2 linked regions of the Homo sapiens genome follow. The protein of the gene in region 2 interacts with the protein of the main gene of each other region in a pairwise test. Each region holds a gene or a part of one and is shown on either strand. Other genes may lie near its edges.

Region 1 (16,313 bases), on a different chromosome or scaffold from region 2:
CAGCTACTTGGAAGGCTGAGGTGGGAGGATCCCTTGAACCTAGGAGTTGGGGGCCAGCTTGGTTGACATAGCGAGATCCCATCTCCATTTTTTTAATTTTTTTAAATTTTTATGTATTTATTTATTTATTTTGAGACAGGGTCTCACTCTGTCGCCCAGGCTGGAGTGCAGTGGCATGATCTCTGCTCACTTCAACCTCTGCCTCCCCCAGGCTCAAGTGATCCTCCCACCTCAGCCTACCTAGTGGCTGGAACTACTGGTGTGCATCACCACACCTGGCAAATTTTTGTATTTTTCCTAGAGATGGGGTTTCACCATGTTGCCCAGGCTGGTCCTGAACTCCTGATCGCAAGTGATCCTCCCACCTCAGTCACCCAAAGTGCTGGGATTACAGGCGTGAGTCACCGTGGCCAGCCCCATCTCTATTTAAAACAAAAAACAAACAAACAAACAAAAAGTTAAAAAGAGTTCCAAGGGAATTACCAGGAGAGCACCCAACACAGTTTCATGTATTCCAAGGGATGGATGGGGGGAAGCCAATATAGGTCCTCGAGTTGAATAGCCAGATTTAGCTTTGTAATTACTTTGTAATTACATCTTGTATGGCAAATTAATTTCATCTTGTTAGTGAAATTGATTTTTTCACTTACTCAGATCATCCATAAAACCATTCACTCATTGAATAAACGTTTAGTGAGTACCTACCACACATCAAGTGCCAGGGATATAAAAATGCAATGATATAAAAACTCATAGTCAACTGAGAGAAGATAGACATGACTGCAAACAGTTATAATATAACATAATAAGCACTGAAATAAAGATGTCCAAAGCCACCACACAACAGAGGAGAGAAAGTTAACTGTCTGGGGGGATTACGGAAGGCTTCACAGAAAGTGTAATGATTTAAAAGATAAGTGTGAATTTGCTATGCTGATATGATAGGGGCTGTGTAGAGGGGCACTACAGTTAAGAATACAGCATGTACAGGGGACTGGATGTGAGAAGAAAGGAAAACATTCATTTCCAGTTTCAAGATGGAAAGCTAAGCCCACACTGTGATCTCCCCTCCCTGCCAAATCACAGAGATGATGAAATAAAGGGGGAAGGGGGGAGGAGAGAAAGAAGAGAGGGAAGGAGAGAAGAGGGAAGGAGAGAGGGAGGGAGGAAGGAAGGAAAGAAGGAAGGGGGAGAGGGGCCAGGTGCATTGTCTCATGCCTGTAATCCCAGCACTTTGGGAGGCTGAGGCAGGTGGATAACTTGAGGTCAGGAGTTCGAGACCAGCCTGGCCACTATGATGAAACTCCACCTCTACTAAAAATACAAAAATTACCCAGGCATGGTGGTTCATACCTATAATTGCAGCTACTTAGGAGGCTGAGGCAGGAGAATCACTTGAACCTGAGGTGGAGGTTGCCATGAGCTGAGACTGTGCCACTGCACTCCAGCCTGGGCAACAGAGTGACATGCTGTCTCAAAAAAAAAAAAAAATGGGGGGGAGGAGAAGAAGGGAGGGAAGGAGGGAAGAGGGGAGGAAAGAAGGAAGGGGGAAGGAGAAAGAGAGGGAGGGAGAAAGACAGGGAGGGAGGCAGGAAGGACTGAATACACAGCAACACTCAAAAACTAGAGGGGAAACCTCATCAGCCCAGAAACTAGGAGTGCTTGAGAGAATGAAGGCAGGCAGTACAGGACCGAAGAGGCCTCCTGAAGCTCTGAGTACAGGCTCACACTGCAGCCACACCTAGAGTGCTCCCTGCTCAACAATGCAGGGAGCAACAAGGAGGAGGCGGCCCAAAGGCAAATGACTGGGGATGAGTGGGAGAACCCCAGTGGAAGCAGCCAAGCCTGTTGATCCTGGGTGTTTTCCTACTTACACCCCCATCCCCAGACAGCAGCTGGGCAGAGAAAGAGGAAGGCATCAATCCAACAAGGAAAGTCAACTGCAAAAGTAGGCAAATTAAGAATTCCCCAATGTTTAAGAAGTATCCATACCATAAAATAAAATCTCATCAAGTAGAACGACTTATAATGCCATCTTAAAACCAAACTTAATAGAAAAATCAAAACTGAATTATTAAGCATCATTAATTATCCTGAGAGTTTTTTTTATTTATTTTTTATTTTTTTATTTTTTGAGATGGAGTCTCGCTCTGTCCCCCAGGCTGGAGTGTAGTGGCGCAATCTTGGCTCACAGCAACCTCCGCCTCCCAGGTTCACGCCATTCTCCTGCCTCAGCCTCCCGAGTAGCTGGGACTACAGGCGCCCGCCAGCATGCCTGGCTAATTTTTGTACTTTTAGTAGAGACAGGGTTTCACTGTGTTAGCCAGGATGGTCTTGATCTCCTGACCTCATGATCCGCCCGCCTCGGCCTCCCGAAGTGCTGGGATTACAGGCATGAGCCACTGCGCCTGGTCTGAGAGTTTTTTTAAATAAAAGTTTGCATCCTTAAGATTGGAACAAGAACTTATGAAAACAGCCATTAGAGATCTGGTATGAAAAGCTTTTGAAATAAAAAATTTAATAAGGCAGAATAGCAGAACAGACCCAGCAGAACTAATGTGTGAACCAGAAGAAAAGGCCAAGGAACTCTCCCATAATGCAACACAAAGAAATAAAGCAATAAGAAATATAAAAGAAAGATAAAATAATCAGAGAAGAGATCCAGAAGTTCCAACATCAGTCTAACAAAAGTCCCAAAAGAAGAGAATAGAGAAAATGGATGGATGGTGATATCTGAAGTCACACAGTTAAGACTTTCCTAGACCTAAAGAAAGACATTAAGTTTTTCAAGTAGTTCAGTGTGACTGATACATAAGGCAGGGGATTGTGCCCTGCAAGATTATAGAAACAGTCAGAGGCTACCTCATGAAGGATCTTGTATTTCAGGTAAAGATTTTACAAGAAAAAGTTATTGAAATGAGATACGAATACCAGATTGAAATAAGGGCATCAGTGCCCATAATTTAAATAAAAAGTATAATCCCTAGCTCTAGCCAATTAAAGGGCGCAGAAGTAAAGACACCTAAAGTCATGAGCATCCTAGAGCCCAGACCTTGGTTTCTAAATATCATTGCCCCCTAGAAGGAACCAGAGTTCCTGAAGAAATGGCTGATTCTAGGACTGGGATAGGCAAAGTCTGAGCCTGGAATATCTTGTGCCAGAAAATAAGGAAGGGGCTAAAAACTGATTAGAGGTAGCTTGAAATGACTCCCTGCAAGCAAATATGGAGCAATGTGAGCATCCAAAAGAATAATCAGAACAGATCACAAAATACTGAATTTAAAATAGAAATCCATGAATCATAATAATTCTAAGAGAAAAATTTGGGAGCAGAGAAAAAGGAAAGCTCCATTTACAGAAGAATATCAACCAATAAGTATAGGAAGAACGATAGAAACATCACTATTTTGCAAGCACATTTATCATAAATGAAGGAATTATGCAAACTAAAGGGCCTGGGCTCATTAAAAATGTTCATATTATGACAGACACGGTCCCTCCCCCCAAACCCACTGGGCGTACTGCTCCAGATTAAAAGAGATTAGAAGGCAGATGTGGTCATGCATGCCTATAATCCTAGCTACTTGGGAGCCTGTGGCAGGAGGATTGCTTAGGCCCGAGTTCAGACCAGCCTAGGCAACACAGCAAGATCCTGTTTCTAAAAAAAAAAAAAAAAAAAAACAGAAAGAAAGAAAAAAAAAAGAGAATTGAGAGATATAACAACTAAATGTAATGTGTAATATTTAATTGCATCCTGGATTGGTTAAAAGACAACAACAATGATAAACCCCAGCTATAAAGCACATTATAAGGAAACAACCGGGGAAATGAAAATATGGATTCTATCTCTTTTTTTTTTCTTTTCTTTTTTTTTTTTTAGTCAGAGTCTCGCTCTGTCGTCCAGGCTGGAGTGCAGTGGTGCGATCTCGGTTCACTGTAACCTCCGCCTCCTGGGTTCGTGCCATTCTCCTGCTTCAGCTTCCTAAATAGCTGGGACTACAGGCACCTGCCACCACGCCTGGCTAATTTTTCATATTTTTAGTAGAGACCGGGTTTCACCGTGTTAGCCAGGATGGTCTCGATCTCCTGACCTCATGATCCACCCGCGTCGGCCTCCCAAAGTGCTGGGATTACAGGCGTGAGCCACTGCGCCTGGCCAGATTATATCTTAAATAATAGTAAAAATGTAATAGTATGTTAGATTTCTTGATTGATGATTGTATTAGGCTTAATAAGATAACGGCCTTGTTCTTAGATGATACATGCTAAAGTAATTAGGAATAAAGAAATCTCATAATGTTTACAATTCACTCTCAAATAGTTCAGCCAAAAAAAAGTGTGTGTGTGTGTGTTTATAAAATCTAGGGTTCAATGTCTTATTCTTGTCAACTTTCTTAGGTTTGAAATTTTGCAAAATAAGAGGCAAAGAAGAAAGTTCTCAAAGAATTCAAAGCATTGAGCGCCATGATCTGACTTGTATTCTAGGATAACTATTCTGAGAGAATTTATTTCAGAAAGAGACAAACCAGGAATAGCACACCAGAGGCCAATTTACCATAAAGCTGATGAAGCTCAAGCTTCAAGACTCTTTTCTTGTGGATCCTTTCCAAGCCCCAGGAAGAACCTGAGCAATATATCTTCACATGGTCATATTCTTTTGTAAAATTTGCAAACTAAGATATTTAGTCAAGACTATTGTCTCTTTCCACTCCAAATCACTTCATCTTGTATCAGGCAGCTCTGGAGTAACTGTGGGCATTTGGGGGATGTTGCCAAAGGGAATTTAACCTTAGGCTTAATGAACTATTTGTGGTTTATAGTCACTTCCATGTATAGTTGAGTGTGTGATAACTGATAATCAGATTCCACTGATTATCATTCTCATCTCTATAGAAAATATCATAAAGTGGTTGTATTAGTCTGTTCTCATGCTGCTAACAAAGACATACCTGAGACTGGGTAATTTATAAAGAAAAGGAAGTTTAATGGACTCATAGTTCCACATGGCTGGGGAGGCCTCATGATCATGATGGAAGGTGGAGGAGGAGCAAAGTTACATCTTACATGGCAGCAGGCAAGAGAGCATGACCAGAACTGCCCTTTTATAAAACCATCAGATCTCATGAGACTTACTCACTATCATGAGAATAGCACAGGAAAAACCCGCTCCCATGATTCAACCACCTCCCACCAGGTCCCTCCCATGACACATGGGGATTATGACAATTCAACGTGAGATTTGTGTGGGGACACAGCCATAACCTATCAGTGGTTATCATATGAAGAGATGACCAAAGACTATGGTCACCCAAAAAACATAAGAAAAGTTGAAGAAGTATCAGGCTGTTAAAAAGATCTGTTGCCAGGTGTGGTGGCTCACGCCTGTAACCCCAGCACTTTGGGAGACTGAGGGGGGCAGATGGCTTGAGTCTAGGAGATGGAGACCAGCCTGAGCAACACGGCAGAATTTCGTTTCTATAAAAAAACTGGCTGGGTGTGGTGGCACGTGCCTGTAGTCCTTGCTACTCAGGAGGCTGAGGTGGGGGGCATCGTTCAAGCCCAGGAGGTCCAGGTTGCAGTGAGCTATGATCATGCCACTGCACTCCAGCCTGGGCAACAGAGCAAGACCCTGTCTCAAAAATATATACATACATTTAAAAATGTCTGTAGTATTTGACAACTTTTTAGTTGTAATTTGTTGTGCTTTCACTTATCATTCTAAATATTTACTTTTGTACATATATGTATCTGTTATTTTGTGGGTTTTTTTCCTTATGAAGGACCTCCCAAATTGTGTAAGTTTGAGGCCCTACAAAATCTGAAACCATCCCTTAAAGAGACCAAAAAGAAGGCCACCATGACAAATAACTAAATGACTAGAATGCGAAATCCAATGGAGATGAAGAGAAAGTAATGAGTTTGAGATTTGTTTAAAATGTAAAAGCAAAAGGGCTTCTTAATCAACTGGATATGCGGAATCGGGCTGGGTCTAGGATGATTCTTGTTTGGGTGAATGGATAGGACTGGCATCATTCACCAAGACAGGAAATTTGGCCAGAGGAAGATGATGTCTATGGTGATATGTGCCAGGAGCAAGACTAAAGCCAGAGAGACAGACTGAACAGTTATCGGTGTTTATATAGGAGAAGCCAGGACAACAGATTAGCAGGTTAATGGTTTGGCTGAAGAGTAAGAACAGGTGAGGTCAAAGGACGGAACCCTGGGAAACAATTCTGCTGTGTGTGTGTGGGAGGAGGGGAGAAAGGCAAAGGAGACAGATAGTTAAAAGAACCAGTAGCTTTATTAAATGGAGGGAGAGGTATGTTTCAATAATTTCAACAAGAGATAAGTATTATTATCTCTTATCTCTTCGATAAGAGATAATTGTTATTAAAGTGTATTAAATTTGGCTAACGAGGACATAAGTGGTGTCTTAGTCCGTTTTGTGCTTCTATAATGGAACACCACAGACTGGGTAATTTATAAAGAAAAGAAATTTATTTCTCACAGTTCTGGAGGCTGAGATGTCCAATATCAAGGTGCTAGCATCTGGTGAGACCTTCCTGCTGCATCGTCCCATGGTGGAAGGCAGAAGTACAAGAGAGCTCACAAGACAGAGGGCAGAAGGGGGCCAAACTCATCCTTTTATCAGGAGCCCACTCCCATGATAATTAACCCACTTTAAAGATAATAGCATCAATCCATTTACGAGGGCAGAGTCCTCTTGCCCTAATTACCTCCTAAAGTCTCACTGCCCAACACTGTGCCATCACATGAACTTTGGGGAACAAATTCAGACCACAGCAACTGGAGACCCTGAGGGAGAACAAACTTGGTGCACTTGTGAAAGTCAAAGTCAGACTGTAGCGGACTGAAGAATGAATAGGAAATGGACTCAGGAAGTGCAGATAACTCTTTTATGAATCATGACCAGAAATAAAAAGAAAGATAGGGAAGTAGAGGGGATATGGGGTCACGGGTAGGTCATGCCTGCCTTACTTGTATCTACTAATGCTATATATATACCTGCCCTCTGACCCAACAATCCCGCTCCTGGGTAACGACCTAAGCATCCTCAAAAGAAGAATGGATAAATAAATTATGGCATATTCATACAATGGACTAATATATAGTAATAAAAAGAACAAACTACAGATAAACACAACATGGACAAATCTCAAAAGTATTATGCTAACTGAAATTAGCCTAACCTAAGGCACTACTACATACCATATAATTTCATTTGTATGAAGTTCAGAAATAGGTAAAACTAATCTGTGTTGTTAGAAGTCAGAATAGCAGTTACCTCTGAGGAGGAGCGTTATTAACTGGGAAGAGCATGAGGGAGCCTTCTCAAGTGCTGCAAATGTTCTATACCTTGATGTATGTGGGTTGCGTGGCTGTATACATAGGTAAAAATGCATTTAGCTGCACTCTAAGATCAGTAAACCTTATGTCCTTTACTTCGCAATACCTCAATTTAAAAGTTTTTAGAATAATGTGTAAAAATAAAATTTTAAAAATAGCTTTACTAGGAAATACCACTAAGAAGATCTGTAAAATACCACCAAATCAAACTGAATCCTGAGTTGGCCCTAAGATATCTGACAATAATATGCACAGCAGCAATGGCTGAAGCAGCCTGAACCCAATGAATCTATCAGCCATGGAATAAGCAATCCTTTCTTTTAGGCAGCACTGTCAGTGTTTCCAGCTCACTCATTGTTATCTACCTAAAAATCCTGCTCCCAAGCCCACATCTTCATGTGAACAATCTATCCTTCCCAATCAGGTAGACCTTCAGATCATCAAAAAGAGTTTTCTAGGGCTCAGCATCAGCCTAATACCTCTCATATGTCAAAATAATACAATTGCTGACTTCCATCACTACTGTAGAAGAGCCATTTAGAAGACAGATTTGCACCCAGTGGAATCACAGCAGAAGTTCATGATCCTCTCCTTTGTTGTTTTTTTATCGTATCAAATGATGAAGCGATAGCAGCTGGCATTGAACCAAAGTCATTTTGGTTTTCAAAAACAAACCCTATTATCCATTAATAAACTTAGCACTATTTAAAGTATATATAATATTTGCATGCTCACTACAAAAAAGAATATTAAATACTTACCATTTTGTCTGGTACCAACAGCAGCAATAATTACTGGAACTGAATTTAATGCTCTTTTTATCACTGGAATATAATTATCCTTTACTTCATGGAATGAAAACTTGTCATTAACGTTGTATTTGATCACAATGATGTCAGCGCCCCCAATTAGATTTCGAGAAGTGTACCAATCACTGTCAAATATGTCCTAAACCAAAATGCAAATAGCAATCTTTAGTCTACTTATCGTCCAATCAATCCTGAAATAATTTATGACATTAATTTTTGGAATTCATAAAAAATTATTTTAAAATAAGTAACTACTTGAAATTAAAAGTGTTGCAGTCTGCCAACTCTCTTTTTAAAAATGTTTACTTACTCATGTAGCCTGGACAATTATGTAATGGTTAAACAGGAGAACCTGAGAATTCTTGAGAGTCAGATAAAATAAGCAACCTCTTTCACTATTTGCACTTAAAAATAAGCCCTTTGTTTTAAAATTACACTATATTTTTATCACCTCATAAATTCAAAAGTGTAACATTATGGCATTAGATGGAAGAGCAACAGTATGAGTAACGAAGCTTCAAAGGTTTTCCTCTGACCCAGTTAGACACTGCAGGATTTTCAGTGTTCTGAACTGCAATACATTTTAAATTCTGTGAAGTTCCATATACTTTATTCATATTTTCAAAATTCATGTATACTTTTCAACTTTATCCATCCTTTGGACAGTACTGTATATAAAGAGTATGAATGTGGGGTGAGGGAGAAATTCCTTTACTAAAAAAAGAGATACTGTGTATTACAAGGTGTTAACATGGTAAGGAATATATTTTCAATTCACGTATTTTGCCTACATAAATTAAAAATTCAGGATAAACTCTTCTAGTTCTGAAATATTTACTTTTGTGCTACAGCTAATAACATTTATATTTATTTAGAACTGGGGCCAGTAAGTAATTTATTACAAACACTATTCCTTAAAAATATAATGTTTTGATTTTTTTTCTGTCGACCAGCATGGAGTCCAGTGGTGCGATCTCGGCTCACTGCAGCCTCCACCTCCCAAGTTCAAGCAATTCCTGTGCCTCAGCCTCCCGAGTAGCTGGGACTACAGGTGTGTACCACCATTCCGGCTAATTTTTTTGTACTTTAGCAGAGATGGGGTTTCAACCACAATGCTCAGGTTGGTCTCCAGCTTCTGAGCTCAGGCAGTCTGCCCACTTCGGTCTCCCAAAGTGTGAGGATTACAGGCATGAGCCACCGTGCCTGGCCTGGGTTGATATTTTACATATAATTTTTCAGTTTCTGTATGAATAGTGATGTAAGGAAAATATCTTTAGGTATCTTAACTCCACTACCAAATAATGTACAAGTAGTTTTCTTCTCACATTCTAGTTAACTATTAATCATTTGTCTTTTTATGTGGCCTTTGGTACACATTTCTAGGATGTAATAAAGCTAGATTAAGAAAATAGCTAGGTCTGACTAACAGGTCCAAAAGCTGTTGAGCTAAGAAAGTTCAAACTTTGAAATATGAGTCTAAAACAGGGTTAACAGTGTTTGAATCAGCCAACCAAGGTCTATGTGACAGAGCTTTTATCCTACGATGGCACATTCTGGAGGAGTATCACACAGCAATGCCCTTCTGAAGAGAGAGCTTCTTCTCATCAGTGCCTCCCCCAGTTCCCCATACCCTCCCAGCCACTCATTTCCCACAAGTACACTCAGAGTAACAAGAACTGCAGAATTTTTTGTCATGAATACCCTATCAAAACTGGGATGTGTACAGTATTTTTGAAGGGAGGTAAAAGAACCAAAAAAAAAAAAAAAAGGCAAAATATGGACTATAAACAACAAAGGCAAAGGGTTGAACTTGGTAGAGGGTGCAAGGGGGCAGAAGGGAAGTGGGACACAGTGCAGAAAAATGGGAAAGCTTCCCAGCAGAACTCTCAAACTGCCAAATCCCAAACCACACAGCTCATTCAGTTCCAACTGCATCTGTTACAGCGTTCAAGTTCAAAGTATCCAAGTATAACAGAGTGCGTAAGTATAACAAGGAAGACAAATGAGATAAAAAACTAAACAAAAGTGGGGCCAATATTAAGCAGCCATTTAACTCTGAGAGAATAAATCAAAAGTAGCTGCTTTTTGAATTCCAAATAGTTCAAAATTCCAGAGTTACTGGAGAGGTATCCGGGGAAGGGGAGGACCTTTAAGGGAAAATGTTATGAAAAAATGGGTCTGGGCATCCTTAACTCTGTGGGATTGAGGATGTGAAGACTATAAATACTTAATTTGTAATCCAAATCAGAGCTTCAAACCCTGCAAAGAAAACTGTAAATCTATTAAACTACCTCACTGCTTTTTGTGGAATATTTTTAATAAACAGTAAAAGATATAGAAACGTGAAATGAAATAATAATGTACCACACCAAAAAAACGGATGGGAAAGAGAGAGAAAGACACACTAAATAATGTGCTACATCTAATGAATCTGCAGCACATTTGTTTTAAAAGTGCCAAGTATATAAGGCAAGGATCCAGGGTAAGGCTAAGGATCTATAGAAGAGAACTAGGGAAGGGAAACACAGCTACCTCATTTCAACTTCAAGGCAACAACAACACATCTCTTCTCAAACTATGCCAAAGAGAAAATACTCCAAAGATTTCTAGAATTATGAAGAAAATCAAATTCTCCCACCCCTTGTAAATCAGTTCCAGGGTTTCCTCTCGGGGTTATGCAACACAAGGCTTGGAGCCACATTTGGAGAATTGAACTCATCTTTTAAAAAAAAAAATCTGAATTTCTACAGTGAAACTATTTTATTTTACTTGATTGTGGGGCTGCATGTATGAAGTATGAACATCGCTGCCCCAGTGTACTGGTACTGTAGTTGTATAAATCTTGAATGACCTGTGAAAATCTTACTTTTGCTTAGTATTAATATAAGTGATACATAACTAAAGTTGTAACACTTTATTTTTATATTAGCTACCACTTATAGAGCATCTACTAAATGCCAGCCTCTATACTTAGAACTTGACACGTGCTAGTTTCTCATTCACTTCTCAGCACAGCTTTAGGAGGCATATTATTTTATAGATAGGGAAAATAAGGCTGAGAGAAGGTAAGTGATTTAACAAGGACACACAGACCTGAAATGGCAATGTGGGAATCTGAAATCAGATCCTTTTGATATCAAAGGCTATGCTCTATCTGCTCTGCTATATTTAATATTCTGGTTCCGTACATACGTCAAATAACAGTTGATTAATGCAATCAGCTTTAGAATCTCTGATGGGCTTTACTTACCACCAAGTGAAGAAAAGCACCTTATAAAGAGCAACTCTAGAAATGGAATCTCATATCTGAAGATCATTATAACCTAGAAAATTGTACCTGGTTACAAACTTGGTGCCTTAAATAGGGCCAGAGTCTAACCAAACAAAAAGTTATTAGCAAGATAAACCATAACAACCAGCATATGGCAAAAATCCGTACTATAGAGGTTTATTTTCTCCATTTGGAAGATTTCATTTTACTAGACAAAGTGTATGGGATCACAAGCATTACTGTTTGCAAAATTAACAGTATAAACAGGAAAGTGTTAACAGCTCAAATTAAATACGGGAAAGCAATCCTAACATCCTAATGTAGCTAGTTTTATTTTCCCTACATTTACTCGATTCGCTAAACATTTATTCAACTGCATGTTGAACCGTCATGTTTTTAGGCTGTAAGATCTTTCACAACGAAAGATCCCAAGTAAAAGAAGTGTTTCATTTGCCTGCATAGACTCTGACCAGTAAGTTCTCCATCAATACTTCTTATGAACAGCATCATCACTATCATAACTAGGGGTTTAATAGTATCTCTTAATTGAAAAGGCCTGTTTTTTATTTTACCAAATTAACATAACTTTCTTCTTTAACTGAAAACTTACACGAGCGAGTGATCTTTTCGTTCTGTTATGTGGAACTTTGCATAAGAAATTTTTCCAAGTATATTCTACACATTTTTTAGAATGGCGTGATACTTTCCTATAGTCCTAATTCAGTTTTTTTAATATTGCTGTTTAAATGTGAAATCTTACACAACGATAATTTGTATCTTTTCAGGCACTAAACTTTCTTCTGTTATTAAATGTAACATTTAGCTGAAACATACGTAACTCCAATATCAGTAAAGAATCAAAGATTTTCAAATAAGACTAAAGGAAAACATTCAAACATAATGTTATTGTATGCTGAAAATATTTATATGTGTCAGAAAGTAAGTTCCTTTCTCCCTTAATCAAACACTCAAGAATCGGACTATAATTTATCCACTTCACTACTATTTTGTTCAATTATTACAAATTTTAATTTTTTAAAAGTTTTCCAAACAACATTAGTAATGTTATTTCTGATTTATGAGTCACTAAGACAAATGGCTAACACATAAAGAGTATTTGCATTATTAAAATTAAGTTTTCAGAGATCAATTAATAGTGCTATAAATGAGTCATTTAAAATTAACTCCCAGTCCCTGTCTTTTCCTCCGCTTTCCAGAGGAACTATTTCTGAACTGTCCCAGTGAAAAGTATTTTTGCCTGTGTTGAGCTTTGAGAGGGATGTATTTTTAGAACACCAATATTACACTATCACCCATAGGGTAGACATAAAAAAACACTGCTTTTTGCTGATGAAACTTAGTGACCCCGTCCCTTGGAGTTGGCACATTCAACTGTCTGCTGCCTACCAAGGGTCAACCCACAGTCGTGAAGTGTACCAGTAAGTGCTCCACATTCCCACTGGGGCCTTCTATCTTCCTAAGAGTGTTCTCTGACAGGGCTGTTCCCTGCCCAGTGAAACAAAGGACCAAAGATTTTCTCAAAAATGTTTAAAAATTTGACCCATGTAACGCGGACACTCCACACTCACGGAAGTGGGCAGAAGGGGGAGGGGGAAAAAAAAGGAAAGAAAAGCTTCTTCAGCCTCAGCGCGGAGCAGCTGCTCTTCCTTACCCAGACGGGACAGTCGTGGACCACCAGCTTGACATTCCCAAACGCACTGGCCTGATACTCGGTGAACACCGGACGCGCGACCGTGCTGGCCGCGTTCAGCAACAAGCTGCTCTCGTCCCCGGAGACCAGAGGGCTTCTCCCCAGGTAAGTGCGGATAAGCCCCGACGGCCGGTTGTCCTGGTGGAATGTGTCCCCCTCGTTCCCCAGCGCCACGATGTGGATGGACCTGCACGGACAGAGGGGGCGAGGGGAGAAGGGAAGCACGGTCAGCGCGCGGGTCTCTCCTCGGAACAGGAAGTGCGGGGGACAGCGCGCGGCGAGGATGGGCACCAGCCCCTGTCCCTGGGGCGCACGGCACGCGCTGGAGAGAGACAATGGCAGGACGGCGGCGCGTACGTACATGATCTCAAATCCAAGGGCAGGGCGGCGACTCGGAGAAAAGCAGCGGCTCACGGCTTCGCGGGGCCCCCGGGCGGCGAGTTCACCCGCAATCCGCTCATCCCCGGCCGCGTCCCCCTCGCGCGCCTCCACCGCGGCGGGGCCGACGCAGAGCGGGGCCGGGGCCGCGCCAGCCAGCGAGCGAGCCGGGGACCAGGGCGGGCTAGCGGGCGGGGGATAAGCTGCCGCTACTCAGGGAGTGCCCGGGAACATCGCCGGGCGCGGGACCGCCGCACAGCCCCAAGTGGACGCAGCTGACCGCAGTCCCCTCTCCGCCGCGCCTCCTCGGCTGGCAGCTGTCGCCTCCTGCTGCCGCTGCCGCTGCTCCTCCTCCTCTAAGCAGAGAAGGGGGGTCGGGGAGATCGGGGCCTCCGCCCCCTCAGCGGACCGGGCGCAGCACGTGCCAGCCCCGGGGGTCGGGCGGATGCGGGGGACGCGCTCCCCGCGGAGGCCCCGGGAGCTCCGGTGGCGGCGGCTGGACACAAAGGAGCCGCCCGCGCGGGGCGCCGCGGAATATAAATTAATAAATACAACGCCCCAGCCCGAGAGCTCCCAGCCGCCAATCCGCCTGCAGCAAGTTTGTTCAACTCGCAAGGCCGTAACCAGAGCCAGGAAAGGGGGGTGGGGCGATGGGGCCCCCGCTCACTCCGGACTGGAAAAAGGAGGTTAGGGAAGCTAGGGATTCCAGCCCGAGTGCCGCCCCAGCAACCCGATTTCCCCCCCTCTTGGCCTTGACCGAAAGTGCTTTACCACGTCTGCCGCTTTCTCATTTGTCAACATGCGCTACAGCTGTTTTCTAAAATCATACTTGTGAGAAAAAATAAAGGCAACATTCATGCTGCTGCAGAAAGAGTTCTTTGTTCACACACCAATTAATTTGCTAATGTCGCCTTGGGGGGATTATTTACTATTTCAAGCTATATTTAGCGTATTTTACCGAAAACTTCAGGATTTTAAATGCTGGGATTTTTAGTGTGATCGTTTTTAAAGGAAGTTATGTATGGGGGTTTAACGTGTTGGTAAGTTAAATGCCAGTTTACTTGGAGATTTTTCTGTACACGTTATGGCCACATATTTAATAATAGCTCCGCAGACCAACTGAAAACATAATCACGTAAATGCAAAGATACTTTAGATTCTTTCATAATAATGCACTGAAGTAAAGGCTATGAATATCCCTAACGTGCTTCAAACTACCTCGATACAAACGAACACTGGGATCCACTTACTAACACCAAAATGGGCCAGGGATTACTCTGGGGTTAGACTCCTCCATACAGTATTAAAATTCTAACCAGTACCTTACTCTGTGTTGAAAAGAGTTCTTGCTTATCCTTTTATCTGTTTATTTTTCCCTTCTGTAAAATTGGACTGTTTCTTTTCTCAGCTGAGCTATTTTGAGGGTATGAAAGAGGGGGTATTGAGTAGGGCAGTAAAAAAACTAGGGCAACAGCTTTTTATTATGGGCCCTTATTGCTCGGTTGAAAGTAGTTTAATAGTTTCTCGTGCTCAGAGAGGATATAATGGGAGATATTCTTTATGTGGTCACTGTTTTTTTTTTTAATCTAATTTCCCTTTGCATTTTCTACGATTTCTCTTTGAGTCTCTAGAACCTAAACCATCCTTAAAAATTCCAGCATGCAAGATCACTTTTTCTCTTGGGTTAATAGAAAATATATTTTCTCATCAGTCTTTTCCGGAAACCCATAAGTCAAAAACAAAGACACTAGAATGGATGAATGGATAAAGAAAATGTGGTATACACATGTAATGGATGATTAGCGTTTAAAAAAGAAGAAAATTCCTTCATAAACTACAACATGGATGAACCTTGAGGACCTTGTGCTAAGTGGAATCAGCCAGTTGCAAATCACAAAAAGTGATTCCATTTATATGAAGTATCTAAAGTAGTCAAACTCTTAGAAACAGAAAGTAGAATCATGGTTACCAGGGGCTGGGGAGAGGGGAAAAGGGGGCGTTGTTCAACAGGTATAGTGTTTCAGGTTTGCAGGAAGAAAAAGTTACAGAGATCTGTTGCATGAGGTGCATATATAGTTCGTACTATACTGAACTATAGAACTGAACGCTAGAACATTGTTAACTAAACACTAGAGCGTGTACTGAACACTAGAACATGATTAACATGGTAACTATTGTTATATTTTATGACAATATAAAAATATTAATACAAAAATGAAACAAAAATAGACACCAAAGTTGCTGACAACTTGGAAGTGTCAGAAAGGGAGAAAGTATTCATTTTTTCCTTAGTTACTCAATAGGTGAGCCAAGCCTGTGCTGGGTAGGCATAGGAGATCCCAAGGTACATAAGACTTGGTCATTGACCTTAAGAAGCTAAAGCAATTTGTTACCAGAAAGGGGTCCCAATCCTGACTCCAAAAGAGAGTTCTTGGACCTCCAGCGAAGAATTCAGGGCAAGTCCATAAAGTGAAAGCCAGTTTATTAAGAAAGTAAAGGAATAAAATAATGGCTACTCCATAGGCAGAGCAGTGTCATGGGCTGCTCGACTGAGTATACTTATAGTTATTTCTTGATTATATGCTAAACAAGGGGTGGATTATTCATGAGTTTTTCTGGAAAGGGTGGGCATTTCCCAGAACTGAGAGTTCCTCTGCTTTTTAGACCATATAGGGTAACTTCCTGACATTGCCGTGACATTTGTAGACTCATTGTGCTGGTGGAGTGTCTTTTAGCATGCTAGTGCATTATAATTAGCATATAATGAGCAGTGAGG
Region 2 (16,313 bases):
CTCGCCTAACAGAATGATACCAAGACACTTTTCTTTTAACAACTACCTTAAGGACAAATAGGCAAACCTAAAAACAATAGCAGAATAGATCATCTCATACAATGCCTGCCTCAACCCTTTTTTTTTTTTTTCCGAGAAAGGGTCTCCCTCTGTCACCCAAGCTGGAGTATAGCGGCACAGTCATGATACTGCAACCGTGACCTCCCGGGTTCAACTTATCCTCCCACCTCAGCCTCCCAAGTAGCTTGGACCACAGGCAGGCATCACCACACCCTGCTAATTAATTTAAAAAAAAATTGTAGAGATGGGGTCTCGCTGTGTTACCAGGGCTCTGTCTTCTTTATAGATGGGGAAAGTGAGGCCCAGAAAGGTCAGATGACATGGCCTGATCAGACCAGACAGAGCCAGGAAGAGCACCAAATACACCAACTCCTAATTCAATGCTCCTGCCGCCTCCCAGGGCCGGGGGTTTTTCAGGCTGATGAACATGGGTGGTTGACATGGGATGGGGTGAGACCAGGGAGGATGCCAAGAAACGACGAAGGGGAAGAGAGAAGCTTGCCAAGAAAATGGCCCTGGCTTAAAGAAGTAAAAGCAGGTGGCCCAGGCAGATGCTGGATATGATAGAGTGGAGATGAGACCAGGGGCCAGGAAGAAGGAACCACAGCTCTGGGCAAACCAGCACTGAGAGAATGAGGTGGGAAGAGCTACCACAGCAGGGCCTTGTGAAGCCAGTGAGCCCCCACCACCCCACCAGGGTTCAACTGAGGCCTGACCCGTGGATGGAGAGAGGTGCAGCTGGGGAGTCACACAGCAGGAGTAAGGTCAGAGGGCAAGTCCTAGGTCTGCCCTGAGCTAGCAGCAGAACTCAAATGGAAAGGCACTTCCTCTTTGAGCCACAGCCATCCTTTCTGTGCAATGGGGAGATGGTAAGAACCCTGTACTGCCTGCAAGATCCAGCTGGTGAACCTGTCTGTAAATGACAGCCCTGTGCCAAGCGCCAGGAGGCAGGCATCACCATTTCTGTTTTACAGATAAGGAAATTGGGCCTTATGAGCTGTCACGCCCCAGATCATGCAGCTTGCAGGGCCCAAGTGACTCAGCCTCAGTGCTCAGTGATCACATAGGCTGCCTCTCAATATTGGTTCTTGAGAGGCTGCTTACTGGGGTCCCTTTTCCAGGGAGAGTGGCAATGCTGGGAGATCACCTCTGAGGCCTCATCCAACTTTGAGAGCCCACGAGTGTATTAAAATGAGAAGGGAGCTCAAGTCCAAGCTCTTTGTCCCAACTCCCAAGACCCTTACTTAGCACCCAGCCAACCCTCAACATGCCCCTCGCCTTGCGCTCTGGTGGGCACTGGAGGGCACTTCCGAGCTCTGTAACCCTGGGCCTCTATGGGCCTCAGCTTCCTCTTCTGTACAATGAGGACGATAAAAGTTTCCACACTTCACAGGGCTGCTGTGAGGCTTGGAGGAAGCGTTTGGCAGATGGTGGCTGTTGTTGTCCCTAGCACCGCCTACTCATCGCTGGGCTCAAGCTGTGCCCACTCACCCCTACCTCCTCCAAGAAGCCTTGCTAGGAGCCACCCCCAACCTGCCTTGAGGCTGCATGCCTGGAGCCCTTGCACCTACTCCCTTGGCCCTCGTCACAGGCCGCTGCTTTCTGCTTGCTTGTTTGCCTTCCAGCCATGCTGGGCACCCCTTGAGCTCAGGAGCATTGAGCCCTGGGCCTGGCCCAGAGTGGCTGGGCCACTAAAAGCAGGGTTGGATCCTGCTTTCCAGAAATGTCTGAGCACCCGTGCTCTGCTAGGCCCTGCCCATCATGGCGATGCCCACGCCCAGGGTCCTGCCATCCTCAGGCTCAGACTCAAGTGAAGAAGACGGGGCGGCAAATGGCGACAATGGCATGTGTAAGTATCACTGTGGGGGCTGTGGAGCCCAGAAGAGGGCCAGACCCTACCATGCTCAGTGGAGAGGTGGCAGCCCCTCACTGCACAAGTGCCCAGGGCACCCCGGCAGCTCACGCGGTGCCGCCCTCCATGTGCCTGCCCTTGACCCTCAGGCAAAGACGGCTGCAACAGGAAGTGGAACCACTATTACCACACACCTGCAAGCCAGGCCCCGCTCTGGGGACTTTACTGCAGTCACTCTGCTCTTCAGAGGAGCCAGTGCAGGAAAGGAGGCCCTGCAGGTCTGGTCCCCGCCAGAACACTCAACCAGCCTGTGGACTGGCAGGATCTGAACTCAGGCCTGCCGGGTCCCACCTGCAGCTCTCTCTGGCCCCTGCCATTGAGCTACGCACCACCCTGTCCCCACCTCATCATGTGCAGATGACTGTTCCAATGTGCTCTGATCATCCAAGCCTGGGCACACGGGCATCACAGCCAATCACATGCAGCTACACACACCCTTGCCCATGTGCCAAGCACTGGGACATGCATGACAACAGCTAGGTGACAGTGGCTGTCACAGTTTATTACCACATCCATTCAGTGGCCCTAGGAGCCCGTCAGCACGACTGAGGAGGAAATGAACTCAGAGGGGGTCAGCGATCTGCTGATCTGGGGTCTGACCCGACCTGAACCCTGCCTCAGCCAGAGCTTTTAGCCCCTTCCCTCAAGCAGAGCCCTCCCCACAGAGCAGCACAGCCCACACAGGGCAGTCAGAGTTTGCTGGCGGAGGTTGGATTTGCCCTGAGCTTCAGAGGGGAGGGAAGCGGGCAAGGCGCTCTGTGGGGACAGAGCAGGAGCAAAGGCTGGAGGCAGAAGTGCAGGTGGGGAGGGGTCAAGCCAGGTGGCTCTGGGATTGAAGGGCAAGCCCAGGGGCAAGTCACGCAGGCTGCGGAGTCAGGGGGCCTCCAACCCAGACTCAGGAGTGTGGGGCTTGAGAGGAAGGAGGGAGGCGTGTGGGGTGCTGGCAGGGAGAGGTGGAGCCATGGAGGGAGGCAGGGACTGACTTGGGTAGGGGAAGTGGGGATTTCAGAGGGGGATGAGAGGGTGAGGATTCTCAGGGGAACAGGGAAGTAGTGAGGAGTGAGGAGCTCAGAGATGCAGAGGGTGGGGGGGAAGGGAGAACTTCAGAGCTGACCAGAGCTCTCAGCCCCGAGGCCCAACACCTGGCCCCAGTGGCGTGTGACCAGAGCAGGACTGTCCCTTTCATGTCTCCACAGACCCTGAAGCACCTGGCACAGCATGCTCTGTGACGCTGGCAGAGAGAGGGGGAGAGTGAGCGATCCAGCCTGAGGCCAAGCCCCTTCATGGCCCCACCGGCCCTCCTCCCTAGGAGTCCCAGGCTCCAGGAAGTTTGATCACCCCACTGGCTCGGCACAGACGGCCCTGGCTCACCCTCCACAGGCCTCCACCCCAGCGCCTGTGGGAGCCTCTCCAACAGAGGGAGAGCAGAGCAATCAGCCGAGTGTCAGGCAGGCCAGCGGGGGCCAGGCTGTGAGCCTGAGGCCCCTGGGCGGAGCAGGGTGGCACCTGGGGAGAGAGGAACGGGGACGCCGGAGAGATGTCCCAGGAACAGAAGCTGCTAGCGACGAAAAACGTCATTCATCTGGCAGAAAGAGCCGAATCAAGGCCCCCCGCCCATGCTGAAAAAATCAAAGAACAAAAGAAGGAAGAGAACGCACGGAGGGACCACAGATATGGCCAGGGCCTCCAAGATGGAGGGCAGGGTTTTTCACAAGTTACTTTGACTTGAGGCACTCAGAGCACAAACAACCAAACAGGGCAGAGTAGGAATCCACAGAGCCAGGTCCAGAAACCAGCCACCTGGCAAGGAGCAAGGAGGTCCCCCCTGGCCAGGAGGAAGGCTGCCCTGCAACAAGATGGCAGGCCTACCTGAAGCCTGAGCCCAGCCCGCCACAGCAGGGCCCAGGGTGCGGCACTTGTGGGCCTCTGGCCTAGATCCAGGATAGACATTCTCAGAGCACCTGCAGCCACCCAATAGGGCCTCACCTCTCACTCATGCCAGGGGTCCCTTGAGAACTCTCCCCACGACACCCACCCTGGGTTCAGTTAGAGCTTTGGAGTTGGCATGCCTGGGCCTACAGTGCCCTGGGCAGCAGGGACACGCTCCCCTTCCTAGCATCATAGGGACTGCACAGCCCCCAGCTTTGCTGTGTCCCAAGTGTACTCAGCATCTTTCCCGCAGCTGTGCTCCCTCGGGTTATCCCTGACTCCTCTGGTCCTCTCCCTCATGTAAAGACACCAAGGCCACGGATTCTACTTAAATCTCTCTGCCCATCCCTTCTCACCATCCCCACCCTCAAGCTGGGCATCATCTCATCTTCTGCCTCAGTGACCAACTGCCTTACAGTGGGCTGTCAGCCTTAAGTCTTGCCCCTCTTCCCTCAATAATGAGTCCACAGACTCCTTAAGTGCCTCCCTTTACCCATCTGTGAAATGGAGTAACTCCTGGCCCCTGTCAAGGCTATGAAGATGCTGGCAGGGCACAGTGGCTCACAACTGTAATCCCAGCACTTTGGGAGGCTGAGGCAGCAGGATCACTGGCATCCAGGAGTTCAAGACCAGCCTTGGCAACGTAGCGAGACCTCGTCTCTACAAAAAATAAAGAAAATCAGCTGGGTGTGGTGGCACGTGCCTGCAGTCCCAGCTACTCAGACAGCTGAGGTGGGAGGATCACTTCAGCCCAGGAGGTTGAGGCTGCAGTGAGCCATGACTGTGCCACTGCACTCAGCCCAGGCAAAAGTGAGACCCTGCCTCAAAAAATAAAAAGAAAAATAAAGAAAAGAAAAAAGAAAATGCTTTGAAAGCTGCAAATGGCTGGGCGCGGTGGCTCACACCTGTAATCCCAGCACTTTGGGATGCCGAGGCGGGAAGATCACGAGGTTAGGAGTTTGAGACCAGCCTGACCAACATGGCGAAACGCTGTCTCTACTAAAAATACAAAAATCAGCCGGGCATGGTGGTGGGCGCCTGTAATCCCAGCTACTCAGGAGGCTGAGGCAGGAGAATCGCTTGAACCCAGGAGGCAGAGGTTGCAGTGAGCCGAGATTGTGCCATTGCACTCTAGCCTGGGCAACAAGAGCAAGACTCCATCTCAAAAAAAAAAAGAAAGCTGCAAATGGCACAAAAATGGGAAGTGATGTTTTGAGAACAAGCAGTGAGGGCGTTAGACCCTGAGATCTGGGGGGATCCAGCCAGAGCCCAGGCCTAAACAGGAGGCAGGATTCTCATGTTTGGAATCTGGGTTTTTACCTAGCAGGAAACCAAGAAGGTGTCGTCATCTTCCAAATGGGCCCCTTGGAAGCTGTGCTCCTATTCCCGTGGGACCCCTGCCCTCAGACTTTGGAAACAACAATGGCTGCAAGGCCAGAGCTAGGCGCTCTGCGTTTAACTCATTTGCTCCTTGTAACTCCCAGGGAAGAACACTCCTGTTTTGTTGATGAAGTGAATAGAGGTCATCTGCCCAAGTCACACTTGGGATAGGAGGTAGAGTCGAGTTGAGGGCCCAGGTGTGCCTGACTCTAGAGCCTGGAGAAGCATCTTTTGGGTGACAATCTCCATTCTTTGAAGAGAATGGGCCTGGTTTTCAGAAATGGCCAGTTTTATGGACCCAAATCTGTGGGTCTATAGGAGGGGACTGTGGGAGGAATCCCTCTAGATATTAGAAGTTAAAAATAAGACATGGTAGGCCAGGCGTGGTGGCTCACACCTGTAATCCCAGCACTTTGGGAGGCCAAGGTGGGCAGATCACGAGGTCAGGAGTTCAAGACCAGCCTGGCCAACATGGTAAAACCCCGTCTTTACTAAAAATACAAAAATTAGCTGGGTGTGTTGGCACACACTTGTAATCCTAGCTACTCAGGAGGCTGAGGCAGGAGAATTGCTTGAACCTGGGAGGCAGAGGTTGCAATGAGCCAAATCGTGCCACTGCACTCCAGCCTGGGTGACAGAGCAAGACTCCGTCTCAAAAAAAAAAAAAAAAAAAAAAAAAAAAGACATGGTAGGGGCCCACAGAACCAGGTGGATTCCAAGGGCCATAAGCAAACCTGGAGAGGGAGGCCAAACCTGGGAATTTGGCAGCAGCTTCTAGAACAGAAGGATTGCCTTTTTTTAAAACGGCAACATCTTCCAGATTGGTGGCGTTTTGTAGACTATGTGACCTGAGGCAAATAAGGCCTTGCTACCTCTTGTATCTCTGGGTCTCTGACAGATGAGCAAGAGAGAGCAGAGGTAGGACCGTGGAGAAGTGGGCCAGCAGGTTAAGTGGTCAGTGATGGAGGCCAAGGCTGCTCCCACATTGTCTCAGGGGCAAGTTGTGGGCTCTCAGGGCGTCTTGGGTCAGGGACCCGGGCACGAATGAGATAGGCCTCTGGGGAGCTGCCGGCCAACAGCAAACTGTTGGAGAATTCCTTTTGAAGAGGGCCTGGGGCAGACGCCCTGCTCTACCTGGCTTCCAGAACTTCTTGGCTGTCATCCAGTCCCTCTCGCCATGCTCTGAGACTGTCTTGCTCTCTGAGTCCTCCTGGTCCATGGGCTCGCCCACCCACTGCAGGCCATAGTCACTGAGGAACCGCTGTGGGAAAGAAGGGGGAGATGCGGGGCACCGTCAGCTCAGCCCCTTCCCAGGGAAAGGCAGTGTCAGCCCAAAGCCCAGCCTCAGTCTGCAGGCAATGGGGCCCCCAGAGCTGACCAGACAAAGGGATGAGTAGGGGGATCTTGCCATTTCCTGGCTGTGACCTTGGAAAGCCACCTCAGTCCCTAGAGCCTCAGACGACTCCTCTAATAAAATGGAGTGACAGTTCCTGCCACATAAGCTTGTGAGGAGGGCTCAGTAAGATCACTCAGGTCAGCGCCCAGCCCATGCGAGGGCTCGGTAAGGTCAGCCTCCTTGGCTGCAGAAATCACGTGGCCTGGCCCAAGTGTGAGAAGGAGGCAGGGCTGAGGGATGTGAACCATGTGCCAGCCTCCCTAGGGCTTGGCCGCATGTCCCCTCTGCCACAGGAAACTTCTGGACTGTCTACATGTCCACACCCCGACTTCTTTTCTCAAGCCACTCTAACCTGGCTCCATCGCCATACCTCTCTGAAACTGCTCAAGGTGCTGCAACCACCAACCTACCCGCTGCCAAGCGCATGGGCACATTTCTGTCTATCTTTCACCATCTGCTAGTTTTCCTCCCATCTCCTGGGCTGTTCCTTTCCAATTTCCTTCACCGTTTCCCCTTCCTATCCAACACCAACTCATGGGGGCCCAGCTCCATCCACACGCTCTCCCAAATATATACGACAGAACCCAAGTTTGTATTTATGCAGATTTCACCCGAGCTCCAGACTCACATTTCCAACCGTCCACACTTGGATGTCTAATGGCTGTGGCTCTTGTCCCCCTGTCAAACCTCCCCCGTGCCAGGTTTTCCTGTCTCCAGAAATGGCACCCCCTCCACCTGAGAATCCTCTGTCGCCCATTCCTCCAGGATGACCCACAAGGCCTGTGGTGCCCCCTCCAATGCAGCCTGGAACCCATCCACTGGGCTCCATCTGCTGCCACCACCCTAGTTCAAGCCACCGTCATCTTTCTCCTGGACAATCCAGGGGCGGCGCCTGCTTCCCCCGTCCTCTCCTCACCCACACCACCCAACCCCACAAAGCAGGGTGGTCTTTTTGTCATGCCACCTCTCAAACAGAAGCCTTCCAATGGCTTCCCATTTTTTCGGGACAGGATCCAGCCAGAACCACGGGCGGCTCCAATGTGATAAGGCCCCCACGACCTCTTCTCTTTTCCCGTTCTTCTCCTTCCTCCACACAGCCACCGACCGCAAGCCAAGTTATGTGGCGGGAAGTGGCACCTTCCCTGTCTAAGGCCTGGATCCTCTCACCCCATTCCCCTCCTCACTCACCAGACATCATGCCCAATGTCACCCCCGCAGGTGGTCCCCCAACTTGCCTCTGTGGTGTCACCCATTTCATCAAGTCACAGCACTCTCTGTACTTGTGTACCTGTGTACTCGTTTGTTCCCCTCCCCACAGACTGGCAGCCTCATGCAGGCGGGGGACTATGTCTGTCTTGGTCATGCTCTGCCCCAGGCCTGCCCCAAGCAGATCCTCCAGATGAGGCTGTTAAATGAATGAAGTGATAACTGTGTGGCGGAGACGCATGCAAGGGCAGTCATGCCCCTGCCCCGAGGCTCTGGTGCAGCCCTCACCGCCTGTGGCCACTGCTCGGGGACAACCCCAGGTATGAACAGCTTGGAGTGGGAAGGGCTCTCAGCTGCAATTGGAGGTTTGCTGCCAAGGTTTTAAATTAGATTGGGACTTTGGAAACCAATTCTGCGTGGAGAGGGAGAGAGGCTGAATCCCAGGAAGAACTTCTGGCAGGGCCCATGCGTGCCTGGGACCCTTCTCTGTGCCTGGTGTCCCTCTAGTTCCCTTGCTGTTTGAATGGGTCTGTGAGCGGGGGAAAGAAAGGTGACTGGGGTCACTGAGTCCCCAGTGAGCAGAAGTCACAGCCAGAGGCAGCAAATTGCTTAACCAATTCAGTGCTAGGTCCTGGGTGCACAGTGACATACAGGAGGAAACTGCTCCCTCCGTCGTGGAGTTCAGAGTCCCACAAGGGAAGAGAGATGAGGCACTGAGAAAGCTCGGGATGGAAAACCTGCCTAGGAGGCCCGGGGGATATGACTGAGGACAGTGGAACTGACCTGGGGGAGGTGGGGAAACATTTCAGCAGAGGGAACAGCAACAGCACGGCCCAAGGCCCTGAGGTGGGAAGCAGCTCCATGAGGTCAAAGACCCAGAGGAAGGGCCTCATGGCTGGAGGGGAGAGTGGTTCAAGCTAAGATGAAGAGGCATGCAGGGGCCAGCCCGCAGGGGCCACAGCGAGGACTGTAGAATTCAGTTCAGTGGGAGCCATGAGGTCTGCTAAGCAGGGGAGAGGCATGTTCAGAGGGCCCAAAAGCAGGGGTGTGCCCCAGCCCCAGACACCTCCCTGGCTCTTTAAAGTCTGGGCCAGTCCTGGGTAGGGAAATGCAGGGCAGGGTCCCTGGGTGGGATGTGACGAGGAGAGGCCCAGAGAGGTGGGCTCGGACCCAGCTCCTGAGGAACATGCCGTGAAGAGCTGGGGACTGCTGGCTGCCCGCATCCCCCGGGGCCCAGCTCTCTCACCTCCATCTCCCTGACCTGCCGCTGCAGCTGCACACACATCGTCTCCAGTTCCTCCTGCCGCTGCAGGGTTGCCTCGGCTTCAGGGAAAGACAGGGACAGGCTTCAGCTGCCCCAGCAAGACACTGCCAGGTCACCTCTGCCCTGAGGGTCATCTGGAGAAGCTGTTCTGGGGATCCCCCAAGAACTGCCTCTTGGCCCCCCACCTCTCTGGCCTCTCCTCTGACCCCGTGGCGGTGCCTTGATGGGCCCTAGGAGGCTGCCACTCCCCTCAGAGCCTCCTCTCCTCCACACTTCAGATGGGACTCGGTCCCATGTAGGAGGGCATGGAGTGACTCCAGCACTGTCCTGGATATGCTGCAGCCCCTCTGTGGGCTCAGCTGTCCAGACCCCACCAAGTAGTCAGCTTGATGCTCTTGATGCCAGAAGCCATTGTGAAGCTTCCAGGAGCCCTGGGCCCAGGGGAGGTGCCTGACTGGGGGCGCAGGTCAGCCCTCCAAGAGCCCCCTACCTGGGTGTGGCCGGAGGGTCTGCACCAGGTCCTCTAGGGCCGCTATCTTCTGATCCTGTAGCATAAGACACAGGGTGAGCACAGGGCCTGTGGTTCCCAGAGCCCTGCCCAGACAGGAAGCTCCAGAGCTTTGCCTATGTTGGATGCTGGGGAGCAGCAAGCCCCTGCCACCCTTTGGCACAGCCACTTCTCCCGGACCTCAGATAACCCTCGCAGTTCCTCTGAGGTAGGGAGAGGTGCGGCCCACACCTGAGGACCCCCACATCTGAGGGTGCCGCGCTCTGCTCAGCAGTCCACTGTGCCACCCAGTCCAGGGTCTACTGGGTCCTGCTCAGCTGAGGGGAAGACCCCCCAGCCTCTCGGCTCAGGTCACAGGACCTAGATCAGGCCCAGGCCACACCTGGTCCTCGAACTGGGCAGGTCAGTGTGGTAGACGGTTCTAGAATCACCCACCCTAGTCCAACTCCTGGCCTCCCCAGCCCAGTCCCTCCACCTCTCAGACCGGCCCCTGGCCCTCTCCCACCTGGAGCCCCACCTTGGACAGTATCTCATCAGTCTGGGCCTTCACCTGCTGCTCCAGGTCCCACAACTTCCTCGTCATGAAGGCCATCAGCTCCGAGTCATGGGATGCAGGGACTGCCAAGCACACAAAGTCTTTAGAGCCCAGACCTAGAGCCGAGGCTGAGTTGTGGGGGGGAGGGAGGAGGATAGGGGTCCCAGGAATGGAAATGAAGGTACTGAGAGCAGCTCCCACTGGCATCATAGGAACTGTTCTAAACACTTCATGTAGATCAACCCCCTGTAATCCTTGAAACACACCCAGGAGGTAAATGAACTGTTTTAGGAAACTGAGACACAAAGGGATCAAGTAATTTGTCCAACATATACAAGGAAGTGGTGTAACATATGGGTGACATCACCCTGAAGCATTGCCAAGAATTTCACCCTCGATCTAATCAAACCTCCAAATCTAGTGTCCAGTTGGTACGCAAAACAGCAGATAGAGGAGTGAGGCAAATACCCCACGGGCAAACTGCCAGACAAAGCCAGAATGCGGGGTGCTGTAGAAAACAGTAGCCAGGGCCGGGCATGCGGTGGCTCATGCCTGTAATCCCAGCACTTTGGGAGGCCAAGGCAGGTGGATCACTTGAGGCCAGGAGTCCAAAACCAGCCTGGCCAACATGGTGAAACCCTGCCTCTACTAAAAATACAAAAATCAGCCGGGCGTGGTGGCAGGTGCCTGTAATCCCAGCTACTCGAGAATCGCTTGAACCCAGGAGGCGGAGGTTGCAGTGAGCCAAGATCGCACCACTGCACTCCAGCCTGGGTAACAGAGTGAGGGACTCTGTCTCAGAAAAAAAAAAAAAAAAAAAAAAGTATGAAAATGGAAAAGAAGAGAAACCTACAGGAAGAAGCAGGCCTTTTCCTTTTCTTCCCCTAGACAGTGTCCTTTCTATGTATGAAGCAGGAACCGCGGCCATCATCCTACAACCACATGAGGCTGACATGTCAAGGCAGGTTCAGTGGAAAGATGGAGAAACCTGAGCCCCTGATGATGTCTTGGAGTCACTGAATTAACACCCCTGGAGCTGCCTCTTTAGGATTTCTTTGCATGTGGGATAACAAAACTTCCTTAATGTTCTTGTTGGCTGAGGAAGGGTTTTCTTTGACTTATAGTTAAATGCATCTTAATTGACAAACATTTGGGAACTGTCTACACATGGAGTGCAGGTGAGCTCACTGGGGCACAGTGGACACAGAGGAGAATCCAGGCCAGAGGAACATCACATTGAAAAGCTGAGGGCCTGGGTGCAGTGGCTCGCACCTGTAATCCCAGCACTTTGGGAGGCCGAGGCGGGCAGATCACTTGAGACCAGGAGTTCGAGACCAGCCTGAGCAACATAGAGAAACCCTGTCTCTACTAAAAATACAAAAATTAGCCAGGCATGGTGGTGTGTGTCTGTAGTCCCAGCTACTTGAGAGGCTGAAGTGGGAGGACTGCTTGAGCCTGACAGGTCGAGGCTGCAGTAAGTAGTGATTTGCACCGCTGCACTCCAGGCTGGGCAACAGAGCAAGGCAGTCTCCAAAAAAAAAAAAAACAAAAAAAAAACCTGAGAGAAAAAAGGAGGTGGTGATGACAGCTAAGAGACAGAGCCTAGAAGCAGAGGGTAATGGGAGGGCAGCAGCTTGGTGCCTAAGAGCTTGGTGGAGGTCCTGAGAAGGAAGGAGCAGTGGACAGTATAGGACACTGCTGGCAGAGAAGTAAAATAAGATAGGCAAGTCCTCATCTGTTACCTTGGTAGGGACAGATATTGGCTGGGAGTGGGAGAGGAGGGGATGACAGGGGAAAGCAGGGAGAGGACACCTGGAGCTCTTTCAAAGAGAGAACCTGGTTGCCATGGTTACTACTGAAAGTGACCTGGCTGGGTATGGTGGCTCATGCCTGTAATCCCAGCACTTTGGGAGGCTGAGGCAGGAGGACTGATTGTGCCTGGGAGGCTGAGGTTGCAGTGAGCCATGATCGCACCACTGCACTCCAGCCTGGATGACAGAGCAAAACCCTGTCTCAAAAAAAATAAAATAAAAAAGAAAGTTGACCCCAGCCAGGGTATAGGAGATCTTGGCTTTGTGGTGAAATGGCCGCAGAACCTTAGGCCAGGCTCTTCCTGTCTCTTTTTCCACCTCAATTCCCTCCTCCGGTAAAATGGAAGGGGCCTGAGGGAGAATCATCAGGCCCTTCCCTATGGCTGGCCTCCTGATGGGCAGCCACCACACTGAGCACCTCGCGTGACAGGCGCTGGCCAGGGGCCCTCCACCGAGGAGCATCTCATTGAATCCTCCCAACACGCTGCCCTCGCTGTTCCCATGCCCACTTCACAGAGGAGGCCTCAGAGACAGAGAGATGCGAAGTTGCTTGCTCAAGATACCACAGCTAGTGAGCTAGTGGAAAGTTCTAACCTTATCCCCAGCATCCCCAGATCCCGCCCAGCACTCTGCAGGGCTCATCCCTGCCTGCCCATGTCTCCCCTTTTCTCAGACCTGCTAAATCCCCACTCTGGGAAGCCACCCTGATTAGCCCCATCCCACTTTAGGTGCCTCCATGAGCTCAGCATTGCCACAGCCCTCTGCCAAGCTAAGCAGACTGTCTAGGCGACTTTGGGCCTTGCCAGAGCCCTGCAGAAGCAGGAAGCTGAGCTCTACCCTCAGACTTCATCCCTCTCTGACCCTGAATCCTGAGCCCACTGATATCACACCTGGTAACTATAGCCACAGCCTGGCCTGGGGCTGGGGCTGGGGCTGGGCCTCGGCCTCCTGAGCTAAGGGTGGGGCTTGTGTGGCTTTATGCCAAGCCAGGTCCCTGCCACAATCAGCCAGGAGTGGAAGCAGCTGCCTCAGACCAAACAGGCGAGAGGAAGGGCCATGCCTCCCTAGGCCTTGCCCCGTCTCTGGGGCCCCCTCCTGCAGCCAGGACCCAGACCCTTCAGGCCTCTGCTCTCACCTTGCCGACTCACAGGGGCACCTATGCCGCCATAGCAGGAAGGGACTGAGATCTTTTCTTCTGAGCCACACCCATCACTCAACATGTCCACCTCATCTTCTGCAGACAGGGATGCCTAGGTCACCGCTCTGGGGCGGAGACCCAGAGGAAACTCAGGCCCTGGGCCCTCGCCAGTGTGACGCGGCCTATGCACTGTGCCCCAGGGAGTTTGAGGAGAGAGAATTCACAAGGCTGGGGAGCAAGGATCCAACCAGAATGGGGCTGTTTTGGAGTTCTTCCAGTCCTGCTCCCAGGGGGACTGGCATGGCCAATGCCAATGCCATGGTGGAGAGTTGGGGGGCAGGGATCCAAAGGCCTGAGCTACAAGAGTCAGGGTGGCAATGTGTGGACAGGCCTCCCGGGAGAAAGGCTGTCACACTGGAGGAGGCTGGAGGGGGAAGGGGGGCTGGGATCCAAACCCCTGGGCTGGGTAATCTCTTGGCCCTCACTTGGTTTCTAGGCACACACTGGCCAGTCCCACAGTGGGTCAAGGGGTTCAAATGTGAGTGGCAACATCTGTGCCAAGGGTATGGGGCCTCCTAATCTGAGAGCTTCCAGGAGGGAAGCCCAGCCCTCAGGGAGGACAGCATGGGAGCTGCACAGAACACGGTGGAGGCCGCTGCTCCAGCTGACAAGGGCCTTTCTCGTGTGATTTCTCTCCATCGGTCCAACTGTAGGAGGTGCAAGCACATGAGAGGCGAAGAGGGCACGAGGGCGGGGCACACTTACCATCTCCATAGATGCGGATTCCTCGCCTCCTGGGAACCCAGGCAGGAAGAAGGAAGAAATATAAGTTAGGGCCCCTGGAATGATACCAGGGATAAGGCTCTGGGCACCGGACTTCAGCCAAAGCTCAAAGAGATGGAAGCAGGGCCTCTAACTCCTGAGGACTTCCAGCCCCAAATCCCAGCCCCAGCCTGGGGTGAGACAAGGGACAGGCTTCGAGGTGTCTGACTTCACCCAGTGGAGAAGGATGGGGAAGGGGTGAAGAGCAGAGTCTTAGGTGGGAAGACTACAAGGCTTGCAAAGCCCATGAGCTCAGCCCCAGCTCTGCTCTGCAAAGGCTGTGAGGCCTGTTGCTTAACCTCTCTGAATCTTCTAGGCCTTAGAATGACTCAAAGTGGGGCCAGGCGCGGTGGCTGGTAATTCCAGCACTTTGGGAGGCCGAGGTGGGCAGATCACGAGGTCAGGAGATCGAGACCATCCTGGGTAACACAGTGAAACCCGTCTCTACTAAAAATACAAAAAATTAGCCAGGTGTTATAGCATGCGCCTGTAGTCCCAGCTACTGAGGCTGAGGCAGGAGAATCGCTTGAACTCAGGAGGCACAGGTTGCAGTGAGCCAAGATCGTGCCACTGCAATCCACAGCCTGGGCGACAGAGCGAGACTTGGTCTTTAAAAAAAAAAAAAAAAAAAAAAAAAAAAAGACTCAAAGTGGTATTCCAGAGAGCAAGAAGGAAGAGAGGTAAAAAATGTTTTGAAAACATGAAAGTGCTAGACAGATGTAAAAGATTCCCTTTACTGAACCCCACACAGGGCCTGGCCCAGGATAGGTCCGTAGACCATCTGTGTTTGCAGAATTAATCAATGAACAGTGAATGAACAGATGGGATGCCAAGCCACTCCTACAGGGCCCATACCTTACTAAAAGCACAACCCAGTTTATGCTCAGATCCAAAGTTGGGTGCCCCAGAAGAAGGTATAAAGAAAAAGACAGTGGTCAGGGAAGGCTATGTGGCCCTTCTTTGTATTCCCCAAGACACTAGGAGTCACTGTCCTCTGGCCATGGAAGGATAGAAGAGGATACAGAGGCGGGGACAGAAAGACCCCTGAGGCTGGCTCCTTACCCAGGATTCATAGGCTCCGAGGGCAGGGGCACTTTTCGGGTCTTGCTAAGGGAGGCCAAAGGTGAGCTCATAGTTCTACTTCTAGAATCCAGCTGTCAGGAACTCCCTAGAGGAATGCAGGAAGTCAGCCCCTGGGGACAGACTCAGGGCTCCAAGCCCAGGGGGTAGCCTGAAGTTTCCACTTCCCTGGCTACTCTTCCTAATGGGAAGCGCTGTCTAGGCAGCAGTACCTTTTGCCTCTTCCACTGTCTCCACAGAGGTTTCTGGAAGTTTCTGTTATCTGCCTGCTCCTCTGGGTATACGGCTTTCTGCTCTGAACTGAGAGACCTTTGGCCTGGTGGTGCTTGGGAAAGTACTGTGAGGGTGGGATGGGATGCAGAAATGAGTCAGAAGCCTGGAACTTTCCCAAACTTAGAGCCTGAAAATGCTACTACCCAGGAGGCTGTCCGTCCATCAGCCAGCTGGGTGACACAAAGCCCAAGTATCTCCTTCCCTCCCACCAGAAACCAGGTGCCACTCCCAACATCTCAGAGCCAGAGAGGCCAACCCACAGGCAGGATTCAATCAAGACACAGGCCGAGGTGGGTGGATCGCCTGAGGTCAGTGGTTCGAGATCAGCTGTCCGACATGGTGAAACCCTGTCTCTACTAAAAACACAAAAATTAGCTGGGCGTGGTGGCGTGCTCCTGTAGTCCCAGCTACTTGGGAGTCTGAGGCACGAGAATCGCTTGAACCCAGGAGGTGGGGAGGATGCAATGAGATGAGACTGCACCATTGCACTCCAACCAACCTGGGCAACAAGAGCGAAACTCCATCTCAAAAAAAAAAAAAAAAAAAAAGACACAGTCCATGTGACACCAAGGTTAAGATGCCAGGTTTTGCCACTCACTGGAGTAACCCACCCTCAGTTTCTTTTAGTATAAAATGGGGGTCGTAATAGTACTGGCACAGGCAGGGTTCTGAGCAGATTCAGAGATAACAGAGAAGGTCTAGCCCAGCGCCAAGCTCAAAGGAAGCACTGAAAAATGTGAGTTGGGGCTGCTGTTGTTTTTGCTGTTGCTGCCACATAGGAAGCACTCGTAAATGTTAGTTTCCTTTCCTTTCCTCTTCCTTCTGGAAAAAGGAGTGCACCTGAAGGACATAATCGAAGGCTACTACTCTATTCAGTAAATGACCTCAGGTGATCCGCCCCCCTCGACCTCCCAAAGTGCTGGGATTACAGGCATGAGCCACTGCACCCAGCCTGGACCAAATTTTTTAGGACAAATCCAAGAAGTTCCACTTTGAAGA

Evidence for each region.
Region 1: the proteins of UBXN11 (region 2) and RHOBTB3 interact in binary tests that used the Homo sapiens proteins (3 or more experiments, as listed by UniProt).

What each region holds. Positions count from the first base shown.
Region 1 is NC_000005.10:95,728,892-95,745,204, reverse strand, and holds the start of RHOBTB3 (rho-related BTB domain-containing protein 3), read right to left. Parts: upstream 13,870-16,313; 5' UTR 13,523-13,869; coding exon 13,521-13,522; intron 13,513-13,520; exon of another isoform or gene 13,347-13,512; coding exon 13,121-13,346; exon of another isoform or gene 13,103-13,120; intron 8,317-13,102; coding exon 8,130-8,316; intron 1-8,129. UniProt on the Homo sapiens protein: Rab9-regulated ATPase required for endosome to Golgi transport. Involved in transport vesicle docking at the Golgi complex, possibly by participating in release M6PRBP1/TIP47 from vesicles to permit their efficient docking and fusion at the Golgi.
Region 2 is NC_000001.11:26,287,790-26,304,102, forward strand, and holds part of UBXN11 (UBX domain-containing protein 11), read right to left. Parts: intron 15,379-16,313; exon of another isoform or gene 15,254-15,378; intron 15,130-15,253; 5' UTR 15,095-15,129; coding exon 15,024-15,094; intron 13,934-15,023; coding exon 13,905-13,933; intron 13,236-13,904; coding exon 13,137-13,235; intron 10,274-13,136; coding exon 10,173-10,273; intron 9,693-10,172; coding exon 9,638-9,692; intron 9,207-9,637; coding exon 9,130-9,206; intron 6,543-9,129; coding exon 6,416-6,542; intron 1-6,415. UniProt on the Homo sapiens protein: May be involved in the reorganization of actin cytoskeleton mediated by RND1, RND2 and RND3. Promotes RHOA activation mediated by GNA12 and GNA13.